Linked DNA regions of Homo sapiens. The protein of the gene in region 3 interacts with the protein of the main gene of each other region in a biochemical or structural test. Each region holds a gene or a part of one and is shown on either strand. Other genes may lie near its edges.

Evidence for each region.
Region 1: the proteins of CTNNB1 (region 3) and MUC1 form a complex in vitro, tested with the Homo sapiens proteins (5 studies listed by BioGRID).
Region 2: the proteins of CTNNB1 (region 3) and CHD8 form a complex in vitro, tested with the Homo sapiens proteins (3 studies listed by BioGRID).

The regions. Positions count from the first base shown.
Region 1 is NC_000001.11:155,189,288-155,197,458, forward strand, and holds the start of MUC1 (mucin-1 isoform 10 precursor), read right to left. Parts: upstream 3,629-8,171; 5' UTR 3,557-3,628; coding exon 3,499-3,556; intron 3,024-3,498; coding exon 2,621-3,023; coding exon of another isoform or gene 2,261-2,620; intron 2,020-2,260; coding exon of another isoform or gene 1,694-2,019; intron 1,365-1,693; coding exon of another isoform or gene 1,202-1,364; intron 1,201-1,201; coding exon of another isoform or gene 1,093-1,200; intron 916-1,092; coding exon of another isoform or gene 1-915. Other genes in the region: THBS3 (thrombospondin-3), read right to left, coding at 6,554-6,612, 6,700-6,839, 7,754-7,926. UniProt on the Homo sapiens protein: The alpha subunit has cell adhesive properties. Can act both as an adhesion and an anti-adhesion protein. May provide a protective layer on epithelial cells against bacterial and enzyme attack.
Region 2 is NC_000014.9:21,452,496-21,460,551, forward strand, and holds the start of CHD8 (chromodomain-helicase-DNA-binding protein 8), read right to left. Parts: upstream 3,629-8,056; 5' UTR 3,537-3,628; intron 1-3,536. UniProt on the Homo sapiens protein: ATP-dependent chromatin-remodeling factor, it slides nucleosomes along DNA; nucleosome sliding requires ATP. Acts as a transcription repressor by remodeling chromatin structure and recruiting histone H1 to target genes.
Region 3 is NC_000003.12:41,236,939-41,241,635, forward strand, and holds the end of CTNNB1 (catenin beta-1), read left to right. Parts: intron 1-1,077; coding exon 1,078-1,138; intron 1,139-2,195; coding exon 2,196-2,404; 3' UTR 2,405-2,721; coding exon of another isoform or gene 2,722-2,808; 3' UTR 2,809-3,505; downstream 3,506-4,697. UniProt on the Homo sapiens protein: Key downstream component of the canonical Wnt signaling pathway.

The DNA.
Region 1 (8,171 bases), on a different chromosome or scaffold from region 3:
CCCGGGGCCGGCCTGGTGTCCGGGGCCGAGGTGACACCGTGGGCTGGGGGGGCGGTGGAGCCCGGGGCCGGCCTGGTGTCCGGGGCCGAGGTGACACCGTGGGCTGGGGGGGCGGTGGAGCCCGGGGCCGGCCTGGTGTCCGGGGCCGAGGTGACACCGTGGGCTGGGGGGGCGGTGGAGCCCGGGGCCGGCCTGGTGTCCGGGGCCGAGGTGACACCGTGGGCTGGGGGGGCGGTGGAGCCCGGGGCCGGCCTGCTCTCCGGGGCCGAGGTGACACCGTGGGCTGCTCTCGCGGTGGAGCCCGGGGCCGGCCTGCTCTCCGGGGCCGAGGTGACACCGTGGGCTGGGGGGGCGGTGGAGCCCGGGGCCGGCCTGGTGTCCGGGGCCGAGGTGACACCGTGGGCTGGGGGGGCGGTGGAGCCCGGGGCCGGCCTGGTGTCCGGGGCCGAGGTGACACCGTGGGCTGGGGGGGCGGTGGAGCCCGGGGCCGGCCTGGTGTCCGGGGCCGAGGTGACACCGTGGGCTTGGGGGGCGGTGGAGCCCGGGGCCGGCCTGGTGTCCGGGGCCGAGGTGACACCGTGGGCTGCGGGCGCGGTGTAGCCCGGGGCGGGCCTTGTGTCCGGGGCCGAGGTGACACCGTGGGCTGGGGGGGCGGTGGAGCCCGGGGCGGGACTGGTGTCCGGGGCCGAGGTGACACCGTGGGTTGGGGGGGCGGTGGAGCCCGGGGCCGGCCTGGTGTCCGGGGCCGAGGTGACACCGTGGGCTGGGGGGGCGGTGGAGCCCGGGGCCGGCCTGCTCTCCGGGGCCGAGGTGACACCGTGGGCTGCGGGCGCGGTGGAGCCCGGGGCCGGCCTGCTCTCCGGGGCCGAGGTGACACCGTGGGCTGCGGGCGCGGTGGAGCCCGGGGCCGGCCTGGTGTCCGGGGCCGAGGTGACACCGTGGGCTGGGGGCGCGGTGGAGCCCGGGCCAGAACTGCTTTCCGGGGCCGTGGTGACTCCGTGGGCTGCGGGCGCGGTGGAGCCCGGGGCCGGCCTGCTCTCTGGGGCCGAGGTGACACCGTGGGCTGCGGGCGCGGTGGAGCCCGGGGCGGAACTCTCCGGGGCCGAGGTGACACCGTGGGCTGGGGGGGGGGGGGAGCCCGGGGCCGGCCTGGTGTCCGGGGCCGAGGTGACACCGTGGGCTGGGGGGGCGGTGGAGCCCTGGGGCCGGCCTGGTGTCCGGGGCCGAGGTGACACCGTGGGCTGGGGGGGCGGTGGAGCCCGGGGCCGGCCTGGTGTCCGGGGCCGAGGTGACACCGTGGGCTTGGGGGGCGGTGGAGCCCGGGGCCGGCCTGGTGTCCGGGGCCGAGGTGACACCGTGGGCTGCGGGCGCGGTGGAGCCCGGGGCGGGCCTGGTGTCCGGGGCCGAGGTGACACCGTGGGCTGGGGGGGCGGTGGAGCCCGGGGCGGGCCTGGTGTCCGGGGCCGAGGTGACACCGTGGGCTGGGGGGGCGGTGGAGCCCGGGGCCGGCCTGGTGTCCGGGGTCGAGGTGACACCGTGGGCTTGGGGGGCGGTGGAGCCCGGGGCCGGCCTGGTGTCTGGGGGGGCGGTGGAGCCGGGGCCGGCCTGGTGTCCGGGGTTGGAAAACTGGGCTGGGGGGGCGGTGGAGCCCGGGGCCGGCAGGGGTCCGGGGCCGAGGTGACACCGTGGGCTGGGGGGGCGGTGGAGCCCGGGGCCGGCCTGGTGTCCGGGGCCGAGGTGACACCGTGGGCTTGGGGGGCGGTGGAGCCCGGGGCCGGCCTGGTGTCCGGGGCCGAGGTGACACCGTGGGCTGCGGGCGCGGTGGAGCCCGGGGCGGGCCTGGTGTCCGGGGCCGAGGTGACACCGTGGGCTGGGGGGGCGGTGGAGCCCGGGGCGGGCCTGGTGTCCGGGGCCGAGGTGACACCGTGGGCTGGGGGGGCGGTGGAGCCCGGGGCCGGCCTGGTGTCCGGGGCCGAGGTGACACCGTGGGCTTGGGGGGCGGTGGAGCCCGGGGCCGGCCTGGTGTCCGGGGCCGAGGTGACACCGTGGGCTGCGGGCGCGGTGGAGCCCGGGTCCGTCCTTCTCTCCGAGGGCCGAGGTGACATCGTAGACTGCGGGCGCGGTGGAGCCCGGGTCCGGCCTGCTCTCCGAGGCCGAGGTGACACCGTAGACTGGGGGGGCGGTGGAGCCCGGGGCCGGCCTGGTGTCCGGGGCCGAGGTGACACCGTGGGCTGGGGGGGCGGTGGAGCCCGGAACCGGCCTGGTGTCCGGGGCCGAGGTGACACCGTGGGCTGGGGGGGCGGTGGAGCCCGGGGCCGGCCTGGTGTCCGGGGCCGAGGTGACACCGTGGGCTTGGGGGGCGGTGGAGCCCGGGACCGACCTGGTGTCCGGGGCCGAGGTGACACCGTGGGCTGCGGGCGCGGTGGAGCCCGGGGCGGACCTGGTGTCCGGGGCCGAGGTGACACCGTGGGCTGGGGGGGCGGTGGAGCCCGGGGCGGGCCTGGTGTCCGGGGCCGAGGTGACACCGTGGGCTGGGGGGGCGGTGGAGCCCGGGGCCGGCCTGGTGTCCGGGGCCGAGGTGACACCGTGGGCTTGGGGGGCGGTGGAGCCCGGGGCCGGCCTGGTGTCCGGGGCCGAGGTGACACCGTGGGCTGGGGGGGCGGTGGAGCCCGGGGCTGGCTTGTTGTCCGGGGCTGAGGTGACATCGTGGGCTGGCGGGGTGGTGGAGCCCAGGGCTGGCCTGGTGACTGGGACCGAGGTGACATCCTGTCCCCAGGTGGCAGCTGAACCTGAAGCTGGTTCCGTGGCCGGGGCCAGAGTGACATCCTGTCCCTGAGTGGTGGAGGAGCCTGAACCGGGGCTGTGGCTGGAGAGTACGCTGCTGGTCATACTCACAGCATTCTTCTCAGTAGAGCTGGGCACTGAACTTCTCTGGGTAGCCGAAGTCTCCTTTTCTCCACCTGGGGTAGAGCTTGCATGACCAGAACCCGTAACAACTGTTGCGGGTTTAGGGGCTGTGGTAGCTGTAAGAAGTTAAAGTCATAGGGTTGGGTCTTTATGAAGGAAAAATAAGAGCAAGAAGAAAATATAAGCTCTGGCCACCAGAGAAATAATACCAGGAGGACTGGGGAGTGGGCAGCCTCAGTAACCCCTGGGTTGGCCGCCTCCTTCCCTGCAGCAGCCTCCTTCTCTCTGCCCATAGGCCTTGGCTCATGGCCCCTGCATTTCTTCCCCTCTTAAGCCTTCCCTCTCCCTACTCTCTTCCCCCTAGACTTCTCTACAGGACATTTGCTTGCCCCTGGTACCCACTCTCAGGGTTGGGGGCAACTCTTCTCAGCCTGTCCTTAGCCTCTCCCTCCTTCTGGCACAGACAGGGCAGCCTCTGTCTGCAATTCTTACCTTAACTTCATGGTGCCATCTGCCAGGGAGCAAAACCCACAGAAAGACCACGAAGACCACCTAAGCAGGGCAGCCCACTCCCCACCTCGTGCCCCTCACCTGTAAGCACTGTGAGGAGCAGCAGCAGGAAGAAAGGAGACTGGGTGCCCGGTGTCATGGTGGTGGTGAAATGGGTGGGGAGGGGGCAGAACAGATTCAGGCAGGCGCTGGCTGCTTGAGAGGTGGAGCGGGCACAGGCGCCTACCGCTTTATACCGGTCCCCCCACTCCCCGCCCGCCCGCCCTAGGCACAGCCGGAGCAGGTGACAGGTGACAAAACCCCGCCCCCTCCCCTACCTCCTACCTCTTCCTCCTCCTCCCCAACCATTCCTGGGTAGGGTACAAGGGCTCTAATCGCTCAACCCCCTGACTACCCGTTTGTTCTCCAGCTGGCCTCCCCCTTTCACCAACCACTCCCTGGCTCCGGGGGAGGGGGGAGGGGCAGTCTGGAACTTGGGGCCCCTGGGCTCTAGTTTTAGCCTCAGGGCAACAACTAACGTGGGGATGGGGAACAAAGCCAGCTAGGTCGAGGTCCTGTACAGCAAGGTCGGGAAGCCCACCCCTAGGTCTCCCACTCCACTTCCCCGCCCTCCCCGGGTCCACTGAAGCAGAGCGGGGCCGAGAAATAAGAGGGCTGGATAATGAGTGGACTAGGTGCTAGTTTTGGGCTCCCTCCCCCCACCACTTCCCGGAATAGCCCCACCCTTCTAACCGCTCCCTGTCCCGTTCCACACGCAGTTCTACCCTGAAACCCACAGTCCCCGCCCCAGCCGGACTTTCCAGCAGCCTGGGTTCCCTCCTTGGAGAAAGCCAAGGAGGGAGTGGGGGAAGAAATTTCCACTTAAGGGAGTAAACCTGGGCTCCGATGAACCCTAGGGTCCTTCCTTGCCACTCTCCACCACTGGCCAGGAGCTCCTCCCGCCCTCTAGTGGTCACCGGGAGCCTTGCGGGGCTGGGCCGCGCAAGCTGAGGGGCCGCTCGGACCGGGCGGAGAGGAGTAAGGGCAGCGCTGCCTAAGTGAGGCAGCGAGAGCCCGCGAGAGGGAAGCAGGGCCCGGGAGAGAAGGGTCACTGCCGTGGCCAGGGAGGGAGGAACGCACAGCATGGTGGACGGCTGGGAGCTTTAGGAGGGGGCACTCCGGGACGCGTGGTGGTGGCGTCTGGAGGAAATGGAGCTAAGCGGGTGGGGTCCTGAGGTATGTGGAAGGGGCACCGAGGTATGTGGGAGAGGACGTTGGAACGTGGGCGGGGGAGTTGGACACGTTCTGTGTGGGCCGTTATGTACTTAAGAGGCAGATCGGGCGTGGCACGGTGGCTCACGCCCGTAATCCCAACACTTTGGAAGGCCGAGGCGAGTGGATCACAAGGTCAGGGGTTCAAGACCAGCCTGGCCAAGATGGTGAAACCTCGTCTCTACTAAAAACTACAAAAATTAGCCGAGCGTGGTGGCGGGCGCTGTAACCCCAGCTACTCAGGAGGCTGAGGCAGGAGAATCGCTTGAACCCGGGAGGCGGAGGTTGCAGTGAGCCGAGATCGCGCCATTGCACTCCAGCCTGGGCGACAGAGCAAGACTCCGTCTCAAAACAAAAAAGGGGGGGGCAGAGAGTAGGTGGGGTGACAGAATGGGATTTACGGACACAGAACTATCCTTTGGGGAGCAGAGTGGTATTGGGGACAGGTAGGCACGTAGCGGGGGGCAAAAGCACACGTGAGGTGCGTAATGCGCGACAGCCAAGAGGTGTGTGCGGCAGCAGTGCACGAGGGGAGGAAGCTATCCCAGGCCGCGGCAGCACGTGGAACTTGGGTCCCGCAGTCGCAGGCTGCGCTCTAGGCCGACGGAAGCAGTTCCGCCTGTATTCAGAAAACAGTTCTCAGCCCCAAAGACACAGGTTGGAAAGAACACTTTAAAAACACTTCGGCGAGGCACGGGATTGGAGCGCATCAGATCAGCAGGCGAGAGACCACAGCTCTCGCCCGCGCGCCGCGCGGCGCCCGAGGCGCAGCTTTGTGTGCGGCGAGACCCTGGGGCAGGCGCTGGGCGGGGTGGGGACATCTGACGTCAGCGCGCCCGGGAGCGCGGGCCGGGGAGGCGGGGAGCCCCCCAACTCGCAGGCCGGAGAAAACACGAGTAGCTAGGTGGGCGGCCCCAAACCTCAACTCCCGGCATTGCCAAGCAACAGCCATTCAGTTCGGTTGCTGGGACACGCGTCACCATGGCGACGGCTCCGCGCCGCGCAGTCTGAGTACTTAAAGAGCAAGCGCGCGCAACGCCCGGGCGTCGGAAAGCGGCCTTCTGGGACTCCGCAAACTCCCGTTCTCCCTCCCCCCTCCCCCTTGCCATTCCCTTTGCCTTCCGGGCGCCAAGTCTCTCTGGCCTCCAAGGTGAACCCAACTCCCCAGCGCGCCCCGGGTTCCCGGGTCGGGCCGGCTTCAGGCGGTGGGGAGCGGGATCCCGGGCCCCGGGCGGGCGGGAGGGACGGGACGCGGTGCAGTGTTGTTTTTTCCCCCGCCAATATTGCACTCGTCCCGGCCTCCGGCCCCCCCGGCCCCCCGGCCTCCCCGCTACCCCTAGCGGGGCAGCCCCCGCCCTCCTGGCTCTCCATCCCGGCGGATCTTTGATAGACTGGAGTGTCGCCGCTGCCACCGTGAGTAAGTGGGTCTGGGAGGACTTCGGGCATCCTCCCTCAGGCACCCTATCCTTCACTTAACTCCATCCAGCACCTCCCCCACCCGCATCCCCAAATCAGCCAAACTTCCCCTAGATCCCTAACTTCCACCCTCCCAGGCTTTCTCTTCTACTCGCCGATTCCTTCCACTTCCCCACCCTATCCCGGAAAATCCCTAAAATAAGCAGTTGCACTGGCTTAGAAAACAACCAAAACTTTATGGCAATGTGCTGTCATCTTTCCTGGGGTTAGTGCCTGAGTAATACCCCTTGAAAACTTCTCATCCCCTGAAGGGTGGGGTGACCACCCCTCTGGGACTGAACTCCTTTTGGGAGCCAGAGAAGGGTCTGTGGTTGGCTGAGGGGCTGTAGCTTAGACCTCAGGGTCTCCAGGATGGACCCCAAGGCCAAAGGGTCTAAAATTCTGAATTCTGAATCTGGTGGCCTCCTCCTCACACCCTTCCCTGGAGCAGCTGCCTCCGGAATGGCTCAAAGTCCTCAGGCACTGTGTCTGAAGAAGGGGAAATAAGTAAGGTCAGAGGATGTGGCTCTCCCACAAGGCATGAAGGATTAGGTTGATCTCAATCAGCCACCTCACCATTGCATCGATACTGGAGATTGGACCAAATTATGTTTTCTTGGGAGAAGCAGAATACACCAAGACGCCCCCCTCGCATGGATGTGTCAATGATCACCCCAGAATCCGCCACAAGCTGGGGTCCCTCATAGAGCTTCACCCTGTCCAGGATTCCAGGATAGGAGTATCCATTGGTGCTAGGGTGCCAGTGGGCACTGTGCCACCATGCCTGGGGCCTTGCTTTTCCCCAGCCCCCCTTGAGCTCACCAGGCCTGAGAGAGAAGGGAGGGAGGGAAAGGGAGGCAGGAAGGAGAGGGAAGGGGGGTGCTTTTCTCAGGCCTGGGGCCCCTAGCTCTTTGTCCAGCTCCTTTTGCATCTCAAAGCACCAGCCGCATTCCAAGCGAGGATTGGGTTGCCATGACAATAAGCACAATGGGCTGGGGGGTGAAGTCACCCGCTTCCCAGGCTCTAGTCCACCCCCTTTTATCCCCTGTCCTGGCACCCCACAGCCCCAGGCACCTTAAAGGGGAACCAACCCAGGTTCCTGGACTCTGGGCTCTTGGCCATGGAAAGTCCAGCCTCTAAGCAGACCCATTTCCCCTCCCTTCCTGTTCATCTCCACCAACTAGGGCTACTTGTTGGAGAGAAATGCAAAGTTGTGGACAAAGTGTTGAACCGAGGCCTGTGAAGTCAGGGCCTTGATTTTCTCTTCTGTAAATGATGATGCCTTCCAGGTCAGATGATCCCTATCCACGTTGATAAGACAGGTTCCAGGTCATACCAACTAAGGGACCAGATGTGATGTGCCCCTTCACAGATTGGCCTGGGTTTGGAGGCTTCTGGAGAACTGTAAAGGGCATCTAACCCAATGCCCTCATTTTACAGACGGGAAAATGGGTCATGGAGGAGTGACTTCACCAACATCACTCATAGGTGCTTGTGTCCGTGGTGAGAAGGGTGATGGAGAGAAGTGGCTGCAGTTCCCACCCATGGAGAGGTCACTGGTGAATCCCAGCTAAAGAGGAAGGACAGGCCCGGCCTGAGTCCCACAGGTGGGCTCAGCCCCTCTCCTTACCGAATGTAGCCAACTTGAGGCCGGTGCAGAAGCTGCCAGCGATAGGAGGTCTTGTCCCGCCAGCCCACATTTCGTGGGTCTGTCCACAGCAGTCGTACCTGATCAGGGGTGTGGCCAGTATGCCACAGGGCATTTCGGAGGTGCTCACCTGGGCCAGACACTGATGTCACTGCCTAGGAGACATTGGCAAAGACAGTGGGTCAACTGCAGAACTGGAGTGAGGGGAGACAACAGGTCGGTAAGTGCAGGTGGGAAAGGGATTCAAGGCGGTCATGAAAATGCCCTGGGGCCCCAGAGAGCCGGCCTCCAAGCCAGATGTCTGGGTAAGAGGGTTCCCAGTCAAGCAGTGGGGGAGGCCCTGGGGCTGCAGAGGAGAGCTTTGGGAAAGGGCCCTGGGTTGCGGAATCTGAGCAGCTGG
Region 2 (8,056 bases), on a different chromosome or scaffold from region 3:
TTAGCCAGGCGTGGTGGCACACGCCTTAACCCCAGCTACTTGGGAAGCTAAAGCAGGAGAATCACTTGAACCCAGGAGGTGGAGGTTGCAGTAAGCCGAGATCGCGCCACTGCGCTCCAGCCTGGGAGACACAGGGAGACTTGTCTCAAAAGAAAAAAAAAAAAGAAAACTTCATACAACAATCCCATTACATAGAAATACAACTGTCAGCCGGGCGCAGTGGCTGACGCCTGTAATCCCAGCGATTTGGGTGGCCGAGACAGGCCGATCATGAGGTCAGGAGTTAAAGACCAGCCTGGCCAATATGGTGAAACCCTGTCTCTACTAAAAATACAAAAATTAGCCGGGCATGGTGGTGCGCGCCTGTAGTCCCAGCTACTCGGAAGGCTGAGGCAGAAGAATCACTTGAACTGGGAGGCAGAGCTTTCAGTGAGCAAAGATCGCACCACTGCATTCCTGCCTGGGTGACACAGCGAGACTCCATCTCAAAAAAAAAAAAAGAAAACAAAAAACAAAGAAATACAACTGTCAGGCTGGGTGTGGTGGCCCACACCTGTAATCCCAGCACTTCGGGAGGCCAAGGTGGGTGGATCACTTGAGCCGAGGAGTTCAAGACCAGCTGGGGCAAGATGGCAAGACCCCGTCTCTTAAGAAAGAAAGAAAGACAACTCTCATTTGGGTGCTAGGTACCAAAGAAAGACCACATCTTGAAAATTAGATACCCTAAAAGGTTTCAATTTTCACGAGGTCAGGAGTTAAAGACCAGCCTGGCCAATATGGTGAAACCCCGTCTCTACTAAAAATACAGAAATTACATTCCCTAAAAGGTTTCAGCTAAACAGAAGCAAAAGTGTACAACGTCAGTGAATTAAGTGAAAAGGAAAGTGAGCAAAATCACAGGAAGATGAAAAGATCACCAACTTGGTGAGACAAAAGAATAAAAGATCATAGATCATGTAAGAGGGGATATAAAAAGTTAAAGTGAGATAAGAAACATGATAGTCTGTCAATGAATCAAATGCTAAAGGTAAAATAGTAAATATTATACCACAATGGTCACAGTAATGTAAGGACAGGTCATGCGAAGACCTGCAGATCAAGGACTGGCTCAAATCCAACTCCAGAAGTAGAGAGATTCTAGAGGTGAAAGTGGAGACTCGAGAGAAATGTTTGTCTTCTGTTTTCCTCCCAAGTATTAGGCTCAATGTAAGCTCAGAAGATAGCTTAACTCTTCCAGAGCTGTAGACAAACAGTTCACTAAAGCATTTAGCATTCATCTGAATGTTACAGTCCTTTCACATATGAGAATATCAAATCTTATTTCTTCAGTAAGCAAACACAGTTTTGACACCCACAACTTAATCTTAAGTGGTAATTTTGCTTAGAAAAGTGGCTCATGCCTGTAATCCCAGCACTTCGGGAGGCCGAGGCGGGAGGATCACGAGGTCAGAAGTTCAAGACCAGCCTAGCCAATATGGTGAAACCCCGTCTCTACTAAAAATAAAAAAAAAAATTAGCCAAGCATGGTGGCGGGCGCCTGTAATCCCAGCTACTCGGAAGGCTCAGGCAGGAGAATTACTTGAACCTGGGAGGCGGAGGTTGCAGTGAGCCGAGATCCTGCCACTGCACTCCAGCCTGGGTGACAGAGCAAGACTCCGTCTCAAAAAAAAAGAAAAGAAAAGAAAAGAAAAGAAAAGAAAAGAAAAGAAAAGAAAAGAAAAGAAAACTGACAAAACCAAAAGAGCAGATGCACAGGACAGATCAAACATGGAGAATACAAAAACTGTTCAAGTACTCATACACTGTTCCATTATATCCCTTATCCCAATCCATTACTCCTTTGCTATCCTCTGGCTGTGTCGCCCAGGCCGGAATGCAGGGGCACGATCTTGGCTCACTGCAATCTCCACCTCCAGGGTTCAAGCGATTTTCATGCCTTGGCCTCCCATGTAGCTGGGACTACAGGCACGCGTCACCATGCCCGGCTAATTTTTTTTTGTATTTTTTGTACTTTTAGAGACGGGGTTTCACCATGTTGGTCAGGCTGGTCTCGAACTCCTGACTTCAAGTGATCCGTCCGCCTCCACCTCCCAAAGTGCTGAGATTACAAGCGTGAGCCACTATTTCAGTTTTAAACTTTCTCCTAAGCCTGTCTCTTCAAACTTGCCTACTCTCTCTTTGGCCAATATCTTTCACTTGCCTTCAGATCCACTGACACGCCTCTCTTGCAGCAGAAGGTCTTCTTACATGGAAAATGTTTTTCTTATCATAACTCTTTTTTTAAGGGTTGGGATAATTCCAAAGTACTTGAAATAAGTTTCTCATATCTTGCTCTATGAGGTTGACTAGAATTTGTTCTGAAACCTATTGGATGACCAATACAAAAGAAATTCCTAAGCAGAAGACACGATCTAATTAACTAACACAGGACACGATTCAAATCACAAACTCACTTTCGATATGTAATGTGCCCCACACCAGATGACTTCAGCATATGCTAACCTAGGCTGAGAATCCTTGACTGAGTCGACAAACTCAGAAAAGCATGGAGATGAAACGATCTGTAGACGCCGCTGTGATGGTAGGATGCAGCAGACACTGATAAGGCAGCTCCCCTGGCTTGTGTTTGGGGCGCTCCGCTGTTTATTCTTTAATAGAAAAAGACAGAGTTCTAAATCTTTGACTTCTGGCTCACTTTGCTTAGCCATACGAAAGAGATGGGTCCACTATATACCTTTTCTGTGAAGACCCTAACCGCTTCAAGACTGTCCCTTAAAAAGCAAGAGGCTGCTGCATTTATACAGCTGCTGCAGGGAAATTCCCTGCGACACTAGAGACAGGTAAATAAACTGCATTCGTTCCAAAGCAGGGGGAAGGGTCTTCTATCAGTGACGAGTTTACATAATGCAACGGAAAACCAGTGAGCTCTGCAGACCTGTCAAGGAGGATGCAAGGCTTGAGCTCCTCTCTTCCCACCATCTCTAAACATTCTCCAACAGCCTGCTCTTCACTGCCAGGAGACCCACAGAACTTACACCTGAGAATGAGTAACAATCTGCTTACGCTTACCCCATGCTTTCCTACCCACCTTTATTATTAAAATACAGAAGAAAAAAAAATAAAAAGAAGTAGAAAACCCTAACCACCTATTTCTGAATCCAAAGTATGGAGTAACCAAACGGGGCCGAGGAGTTTTCCCTTCTCTGAAGAGAGGAGAACAAGGCGCCGCCTCCAATCTACACTACGCCCAGTAATGCAATGACAAGCCCTGAAAACTCCACAGCGTCCCAAGCAGTCCCTCGCGGCTCGGCCCGGCTCGGACCCCGCGGCCCGGCAGCCACCCTCTCCCCCGGCCTCTCACAAAGGAGACTGGTTCAGTCCGGAGCATCACCCCGCACCTGATCCCTCACAACTGGGGGGCGAGCAGGGGGTGGAAGAGAGAGGAGAAGGAGTTACTTAAATCAAATCTCTGAGAGCCTCAGCTTTTGCTGACTCCTGGCCCAGCACTGAGGAGCGGGTGCGAGCGGGAAGCCTACCTGTGCAAGTCCTGGTACTTCCTTTCCAGGCAGCGTTTCAACTCACCCTCTCCGAGAACAAGGCGCCTTCCGGCGGAGCATGGCCAGCCCTCGCCTCAATCTAGCTTGCTAGTAGTCCATTCTCCCTAGGCTCCGCCCCCCTGCGCTCCCATCCGCCAATGGCAGCACCGAAGCCCGGCCTCTTCCAGCGAGCTAGTGTGAGCGCCATCCAGGAAGTCTCTTGAGGGTGGAAGGTCCTAGGAGGATGAGAAGGGTACGTAGGCGACCACAAATATGCCTGATTGAAAATAAAATCTGGCGGCGGCTCGCCTCTGACGACTCAGTTCACAGGCGGCCAGGCCCCTCGGCATCTTTTTTTGACCCCCGCCATTGGGGGCGCTGTGAACTAAAACAACACTTAGTTACCTACTTCTGGGAAGCCATCTTGGCTCGGACTCCGGGACTGGGTGAGAGTGCTTAAAGAATGTGAAGACCCTGTCGGTGTTCTGTCCGACTATCTAGGTCCAGCCCGAACATACTCTGCTGTATACACTTAGGAGGCCCCTCAGTCACGACGTGAAACCCTGGAGTAATGCCGTATGTGGTTACGGGCAACAACCACCACCACCCTCTCACTTAACTGTAGGAGTAAAGCAATTTTAACAAATCAAATAAGCAAAAATTAATTCTTCTAATGAGAGTGAAAGTTGCACTTTCCTAGGGTAATCCTTTATGGACACCTCACTCAAAATATCAGGACATGTATCTATTATAGGTGCTACTAAGCTTTAGGATTCACTGCAAATTTTCCAGTAGGGGCACTGTGAATCAGTTGGAAATCAAGAACAGGACTTAAGGAGGAATTCCTTTTTTTTTTTAAAGGCCTAATTTTTTTTTTTTTTTTTGAGATGGAGTCTCGCTCGGTCACCCAGGCTGGAGTGCAGTGGGGCGATCTCGGCTCACTGCAACCTCTGCCTCCCGGGTTCAAGCAATTCTCCTGTCTCAGCTTCCTGAGTAGCTGAGACTACAGGCTCCCGCCACCACGCCCAGCTAATTTTTGTATTTTTAGTAGAGACGGGGTTTCGCCATGTTGGTCAGGCTGGTTTCGAACTCCAGACCTCAAGTGATCCGCCCACCTCGGCCTCCCAAAGTGCTGGGATTACAGACATGAGCCACCATTCCTGGCCAAGAAATCTTTTTTAAAGTTGTGAGTGAGGGAATCCTTCCAGATTATTAAAGGAATTTCTCAAGGAGTAACATAATTGCATGGTCTTACATGATAGGAGCTCAGAGACATCAAGAAGTCATATGAGTGATAAGACTCGGCCTTAAGCTGGGCGCAGTGGCTCACGCCTGTAATCCCAGCACTTTGGGAGGCTGAGGCGGGTGGATCGCCTGAGGTCAGGAGTTCGAGAGCAGCCTGGCCAACATAGTGAAACCCCGTCTCTAGTAAAGATACAAAAAAAAATTAGCCGGGCGTGGTGGCAGACACCCATAATCCCAGCTACTCGGGAGGCTGAGGCAGGAGAATCGCTTGAACCCAGGAGGCGGAGGTTGTGGTGAGCCAAGATCTCACCACTGCACTCCAGCCTGGGCAACAAGAGCGAAATTCCATCTCAAAAAAAAAAAAAAAAAAAAAAAAAAAAAAAAAAAGACTTGGCCAAATACATTTCCCTGTGTATCAAAATCTGTCAGCCAAGACAGGCGCGGTAGCTCACGCCTGTAATCCCAGCACTTTGGGAGGCCGAGGCGGGTGGATCACCTAAGGTCCGGAGTTCAAGACCAGCCTGACCAACATGGAGAAACCCCGTCTCTACTAAAAATACAAAAGTAGCTGGGTGTGGTGGTGCATGCCTGTAACCCCAGCTACTCAGGAGGCTGAGGCAGGAAAATCACTTGAACTCGGGAGGCGGAGGTTGTGGTGAGCCTAGATCATGCCATTGCACTCCAGCCTGGGCAACAAGCGGGAAACTCTGTCTCAAAAAAAAAAAAAAAAAAAATCTGTCAACCAAATTCTCTCCTGGCTACTGCTGCCATTATATCAATTTGATGTTAGTATTAAGATTTATCAGAACAATGTGTTTGTCTGTAAATGCATATACAGATATAACCTTAATTATTAATAGTTTCTAGGATGAGAGCCTATTATCCATCTGGTACAGAATAGACCTGTCATCAAAGGAGCTATAGATATTATGGAAATGGGAACAGGTGTGCCTGAACCAATTTCTGGTACCTACACTGATCTTAGTATGATTTCCAATGGTCTTGGCCTTCAAAAACCAATGGACATTGGTAAGACTATAGATGGAAAAAAAAAAAAAGTGGACATTATTTCATAACTACCATTCTTCATATGGGGTGGCATATCCACTTTTTATAATTCTTCATGACCACTTCACTCAGAATACAGATGATTTTGCCCAGATACTTTTTTTTCTCATGCTTCCCTTACAATTGGTGCAATACCCAAGTACAGAAGGTCATAAGTCGGCTTGGTTAATAGAACAAGATATGGGCATTAATATTAAAAAACTGTGCTCCAAAATATCAAAATGGTATCCTTTATTGACTCTGAAAGCAGTAGCTCTAGGCAGAATGCTGTCTTTGACCAATCCTCTAATGCTTCTCAATTGCTAAAGATTGTTTTTTTGGGTAGTAAAAAAAAAAAAAACAAAAAAAAAACCTTCTGTACAGAAACTAGTTTTTATTACTTTAGTTTTCGCCCAGAGGTAAGGGGGCAGGCTAACTCCAAGTTCAACAGCTTCAAATCCTTTTTGGAATCAGATAGGATTTTAAAAACAAAACAAAAGCATAACCAAAGCAATACCCCAAATGTCTTCCAACTTCCTGTGGTGCACTGTCAACTATTACTACTACTACTGGGGTCAGAATCGAGTATAGCATGAATCCCAAAGAGGCTTCTTCATTATCTTTGATTTAATTCCCTGAGAGGAGAGTATCTACTAATGTTTGGGATACAATTAGAAATGACACATGGAGTATGAATAGCTTTGATACATGCATATATTTAATAATGAAACAATTCATCAACAGCAAAAAGAAAGTAGAAAAATTCGTAAGACCTCAGGGCTGTGGAAGAGAACGGGACATCAAGGAAAAAAGATATATATAGCAACCAACCCAGAAGGCTGCATGATGAGTGAAGCAAAGGCAAGTTTGGCTAAGATAGTATTATATGCTCTGAAAAGAGAATGGCTGGATAGGTACCCACTTATGTGACTGCTTACTAGCAGGCAGCCTTACTGTATGCCTCATGGAATGGAGGCAAAAAGCCAGGGAAAGGTGGGAGGGGAGAAGGAAGAGAACTGTATAAAACCCAGGGTAAACAAATGAGTGGGGCAGAATTACAGAGAGAGGACTCTAAAGTCTTTTGTTTCCTTGAAAGTCTAAAATAAACCTTAAGTTTTTAACTATGTCAGTCAAATTCAATGAACACATAATGAGTAGCACTAGGCACTGTAAAGGAATGATAGGGGGAATAATTTATAAAAATAAAGGAATGACATGGATCCTGCTCTCAAGGAGCTTACAACTTATACGGAAAGACAAGATTCCACACAAAAACAACTGCAAACCATATTTACATAGTAACATACATAAAAATAAATATACATATAAATAGACATATGAATAACCAACATATGAAAACTAAGGAATATTGTGTTAATAACTGCTTAGCAGTACCTAAGTCTGTTACTAAAGAAAAAATTTTTGGACTTTTAAGTATAATTAGTGGAGAGTAGGGCATGTGCAAAGGTATGGAACTAGGAATAAATATGTCACATTCAGTAAGTAGATTAGCCTGATTGGAGTAGAAAGTCTAGGTCTAGTTAAGAAGGGAGTTTGATGAAACAGTAGAAGTCTATCTGGTGAAAGACACTACAATGTTAGATCTGGCCCCTAAAATAAAATGAACAGGGAACAAATGTTTTCTTTAGGTAATAATAAGTGGCCACATGTCCCTGACCAACTTCACTGCTCTTAAAAGTTTTGAAGTTACACTAAGAGATAGAAGCTAATAATAGGATAGTAGAGAAGTACTCAGTGCTCTTGGGCAAGTAGAGGAAACTGCCTTCTACAAGAATTCTTAGGAAGTGGCAAGCAGACACCCAAAGGCAAGGAAGAAAAAAACTCAATGAAATTCCGAGGCAGAGGATCTATCAACCAAAGGCCAACTAGATCTAGGTAATTGCAAGTGTTCAAATAGAATGTCTTTGACCCTAATTCTTAGTGGGAAGTGGATTGTATATGCTTACGAAATTATTTATTTAGGCCAGGCACGGTGGCTCACACCTGTAATCCAGCACTTTGGGAGGCCAAGGTGGGCGGATCACGAGGTCAAGAGATCAAGACCATCCTGGCCAACATGGTGAAACCCTGTCTCTACTAAAAATACAAAAATGAGCCAGGTGTGGTGGCACATGCCTGTAGTCCCAGCTACTCGGGAGGTTGAGGCAGGAGAACTGCTTGAACCTGGAAAGTGGAGGTTGCAGTGAGCCAAGATCATGCCACTGCAC
Region 3 (4,697 bases):
TTCATAAGGGAGAAAGATGAAAAATGTTACCAGATTAAAGAAGATTTTTCAAAAGGATGTAAGGAAAGAGGCAGTGTTAAACACTGTTAAGAGGACAGTTTATCAGTATTTTTTACTAAACTTTAATAAAACTTTTCTATTTGAATTTCTGCTATGAATTTTTCTTCAGCATTTGTCCTCAGTACAGGTGGTTCCTTGAAACATTGTTTCTAATAAAACTAGAACATCCTGATATTTTATCCATTCTATAGAGATCATTGATGGTACACAGACATACAGTGGATTATGTTTGTTGAGTGAATGGAAAGAGAGATTGTTAGGTTTACAACGATGCAGCTCTTGAGACCGGAGTTTAAGATCAGCCTGGGCAACATAGTGAAACCCCATCTTTAGCTGGGCATGGAGATGGATGCCTATAGTCCTAGCTACTGGGGAGACGGGGGCAGGAGGATTGCTTGAACCCAGGAGTTAACAGACTGCACTCAGTGACAGAGCCAGACTCCAACACAAAAAAAAAAAAAAAAAAAAAGCAAATTACCAGTGAGTAGTGTGTTACTTGGGTTTTTAATAGGCATCTTATTAACATGTTCCAACTTGAGCCCTTAACTTTCTCCACCTACCCCCTTCCACAAACCTGTTTTCACTGTCTTCTCTGTCTTAGTTAATGTCAGCTTTGTCTGTCCAGCTGCTCAGGCTAAAACTTTTCTTTCATATAACACATCCTATCAGCAGCTCCTGTTTGTGGGTAGGCATTTTGCCTTTTTTTTTTTTTTTTTTTTTAAACTGCTATATCTCTAGCATGTAGAACAGTGCCTGGCAGCACATAATAGGTGCTTAATATAATATTTGTTGAAAGAACAAGTCAGTGAGTATTTTTAATGTGAGGTGCAAAGAGAAAAAAAAATGTATCTTTGAGGTGTGGAGTTTTGAAGAACTTCCATTTTCTAAGCATTTGTGTAATGTTGGAGTTACTTGTTCCTTTTGTAATCTGAAAGTATGCTTTAAAAAAAATTAGTGTACTTTTGAGAATTTTCATTTTGCTTTCTATTCTTCCTTGCTTTGTGCATGTTTATCTAGACTGCTGATCTTGGACTTGATATTGGTGCCCAGGGAGAACCCCTTGGATATCGCCAGGATGGTATGTGTCTCATATTTCTCGATTAACTCCAGATCAAGCTAAAGTTCTAAAACTTTTATCAGAAGAGCCGGTTTGCTCATCTGGGAAACCAGTGTTGGCAGAAAAGTAGTGGCTTCAATTAAAAGCAGTTCTTAAATTCCAGTCAGCAACAGTATCTTTAATGGAGCACAGGGAATTCAGAGCCACACAATGAGTAGCAGTAGGATTACACCACCAACAAATACATGCTACTGCTAGGCCTCTGCAGTGCAGGATGTTACAATTTACCTGGCTTTTTATTCTCTTTTTGGCCAGAGGACTCATAATACCTTTGTCTACAAGCTACCCAAGGAAGATAGGAAAACTCCTGTTTCTAGGCTCAGATCTCGGGTGGGTTTTTACATAGTTGCATTATCATCAGGGTTTTCTTGAAAAGCTAATTTAAATCTGGGTAATGAACATGGAGGATGGCATAGACCACTAACAATTATAACTGTCTTACATTTATAACCGCATCTGCTTCTACCTAATTATGAAACCACTAAAGCGCAGATTCTTACTGTGAGAAATAACATGTCAACCCTAAGATAAAATATGTTGAGGTTTCATGGAAATAGTGCCTTTCCTTAGTACTTTTGTGGGTGTCACTTGGCCTTTTTGTCAAGATAGATTACACCTGCCAGACCTCATTATTGTCTTAATCCTCCTTCCCATGACTTCTCACTGCCTAGGTGGTCACACAGTAGATTCCTGCTTCTTCTCCTCGGGAACCCCAAGTCTCTTGACAGGGGTAAATGCAGAGTGTTCAGGGTTAGACTAATGATGTGACTAGGCCCTGCTGGTGTGCCTGTCTGATGGAAATAGATGTTATTTGTGTAGTCTCATGGGTGGCCTGGCACTGAGTAATTACTTGGCTAAAGAAAGCTGGAGGTTGAAGAGGCTAGAAAGCGTTGTTTTCTGACAAGTTTGCTGCTGAACTTTGGATGCCCTAACCTCAGTGTTAACGTCTATGTCTGCTTCTCTCCTCTCTCTTTTGCCTTCCTTCTTGCCTATTTTGTTGACACCCTGACTCTTCTAGATCCTAGCTATCGTTCTTTTCACTCTGGTGGATATGGCCAGGATGCCTTGGGTATGGACCCCATGATGGAACATGAGATGGGTGGCCACCACCCTGGTGCTGACTATCCAGTTGATGGGCTGCCAGATCTGGGGCATGCCCAGGACCTCATGGATGGGCTGCCTCCAGGTGACAGCAATCAGCTGGCCTGGTTTGATACTGACCTGTAAATCATCCTTTAGGTAAGAAGTTTTAAAAAGCCAGTTTGGGTAAAATACTTTTACTCTGCCTACAGAACTTCAGAAAGACTTGGTTGGTAGGGTGGGAGTGGTTTAGGCTATTTGTAAATCTGCCACAAAAACAGGTATATACTTTGAAAGGAGATGTCTTGGAACATTGGAATGTTCTCAGATTTCTGGTTGTTATGTGATCATGTGTGGAAGTTATTAACTTTAATGTTTTTTGCCACAGCTTTTGCAACTTAATACTCAAATGAGTAACATTTGCTGTTTTAAACATTAATAGCAGCCTTTCTCTCTTTATACAGCTGTATTGTCTGAACTTGCATTGTGATTGGCCTGTAGAGTTGCTGAGAGGGCTCGAGGGGTGGGCTGGTATCTCAGAAAGTGCCTGACACACTAACCAAGCTGAGTTTCCTATGGGAACAATTGAAGTAAACTTTTTGTTCTGGTCCTTTTTGGTCGAGGAGTAACAATACAAATGGATTTTGGGAGTGACTCAAGAAGTGAAGAATGCACAAGAATGGATCACAAGATGGAATTTATCAAACCCTAGCCTTGCTTGTTAAATTTTTTTTTTTTTTTTTTTAAGAATATCTGTAATGGTACTGACTTTGCTTGCTTTGAAGTAGCTCTTTTTTTTTTTTTTTTTTTTTTTTTGCAGTAACTGTTTTTTAAGTCTCTCGTAGTGTTAAGTTATAGTGAATACTGCTACAGCAATTTCTAATTTTTAAGAATTGAGTAATGGTGTAGAACACTAATTCATAATCACTCTAATTAATTGTAATCTGAATAAAGTGTAACAATTGTGTAGCCTTTTTGTATAAAATAGACAAATAGAAAATGGTCCAATTAGTTTCCTTTTTAATATGCTTAAAATAAGCAGGTGGATCTATTTCATGTTTTTGATCAAAAACTATTTGGGATATGTATGGGTAGGGTAAATCAGTAAGAGGTGTTATTTGGAACCTTGTTTTGGACAGTTTACCAGTTGCCTTTTATCCCAAAGTTGTTGTAACCTGCTGTGATACGATGCTTCAAGAGAAAATGCGGTTATAAAAAATGGTTCAGAATTAAACTTTTAATTCATTCGATTGTGTCACTCTTTCTTTTTTTCTTGTCATTAATAAATGGTTTGTGAGGGTGGTAAGTAAGTTTATCCAACTCAACTTTATCCTGAACTTTATCCTGAGATAGATAGATACATAGTGAAGTAATTTGTTGTAGCGATAGAGAGGGCCCTACTTCTCTAGATGCAATTTGCCAAGTTTCTTTAGCATTTGGCCCTGGATTACGCTGGACCCCTAAAAAAGTGTTTCAGCCTTGCACATTGTGATTAGTTCTGGGCTTTGGTGGGAGAAAGCCAAGCAGACTATCCATCTATCTATCTCTACCCCAATCCCCCTCAGATGATTTGATTCCATTAAAGTAATGAAATAAATAGTAACTACCCCTACCTGGATTTGGATTTGAATCACCTTCACCCAAGTGTGACTCATTGGGAGAGGGGAATTCCTTCAACTGGACTTTGAACTAATAATAATTAAATAAATTAAATAGGTTTAAGTGTTGATGTTTATCTGAACATAATCAGAACCAGAATGAGCCTTCCACAGTACCTGCCAGATGATCCTATCATCCCGGTGGTAGGTCTGACAAGCTTAGTTCATCTCATCTCTTCAGGTAGACCTGTTTGTTAAGACTTGTGTTTTGGTCTTTTAAAAAGTAAAAGAAAGAAGTGTTTTGTCTTTAGGGAGAGCTCTTTCTGATTTACTGTTTTTATTTTGATGATGATTGATAGTGACTATTAATTATGAGAAAAACATACATTCAGTTCTTTTTCGTTAAAAATCAGCTTCATCTGGGGAGGCCTTTTTGTGAATGCCCTTGCTTTGCAAAAATGAATTCATTGTGGTCTAAAATGTAATTAGGGTTTGAAAAGAAACATTCACATAGCTGATGATGTGGTAGGTCTCAGGTTCTGTCTCATGTGTGATAAACCAAACCAGCCAGTATTTCAAGAAGCCTAGGGCTATTGGTAGGTTAACACCGTGAAGATCTTCAGTGAATTCAGCTTTTAACATAAAGAGCCACCGCACGGTGTTTCAATTACAGAAAGAACAACTTTTTAAAACCAGAGAATGTTTTCAGAGCTTTGCTAATTCATTGTATTTTATTTTTGAAGTTTAAAAACTTAATGTGAGAGTTAATCCAGTTCAACAAGGTGGCTCTGGAAGTACCAAGGGTGAATAATAGCCAAGACGCTTAGGAAAAATAGCACTTG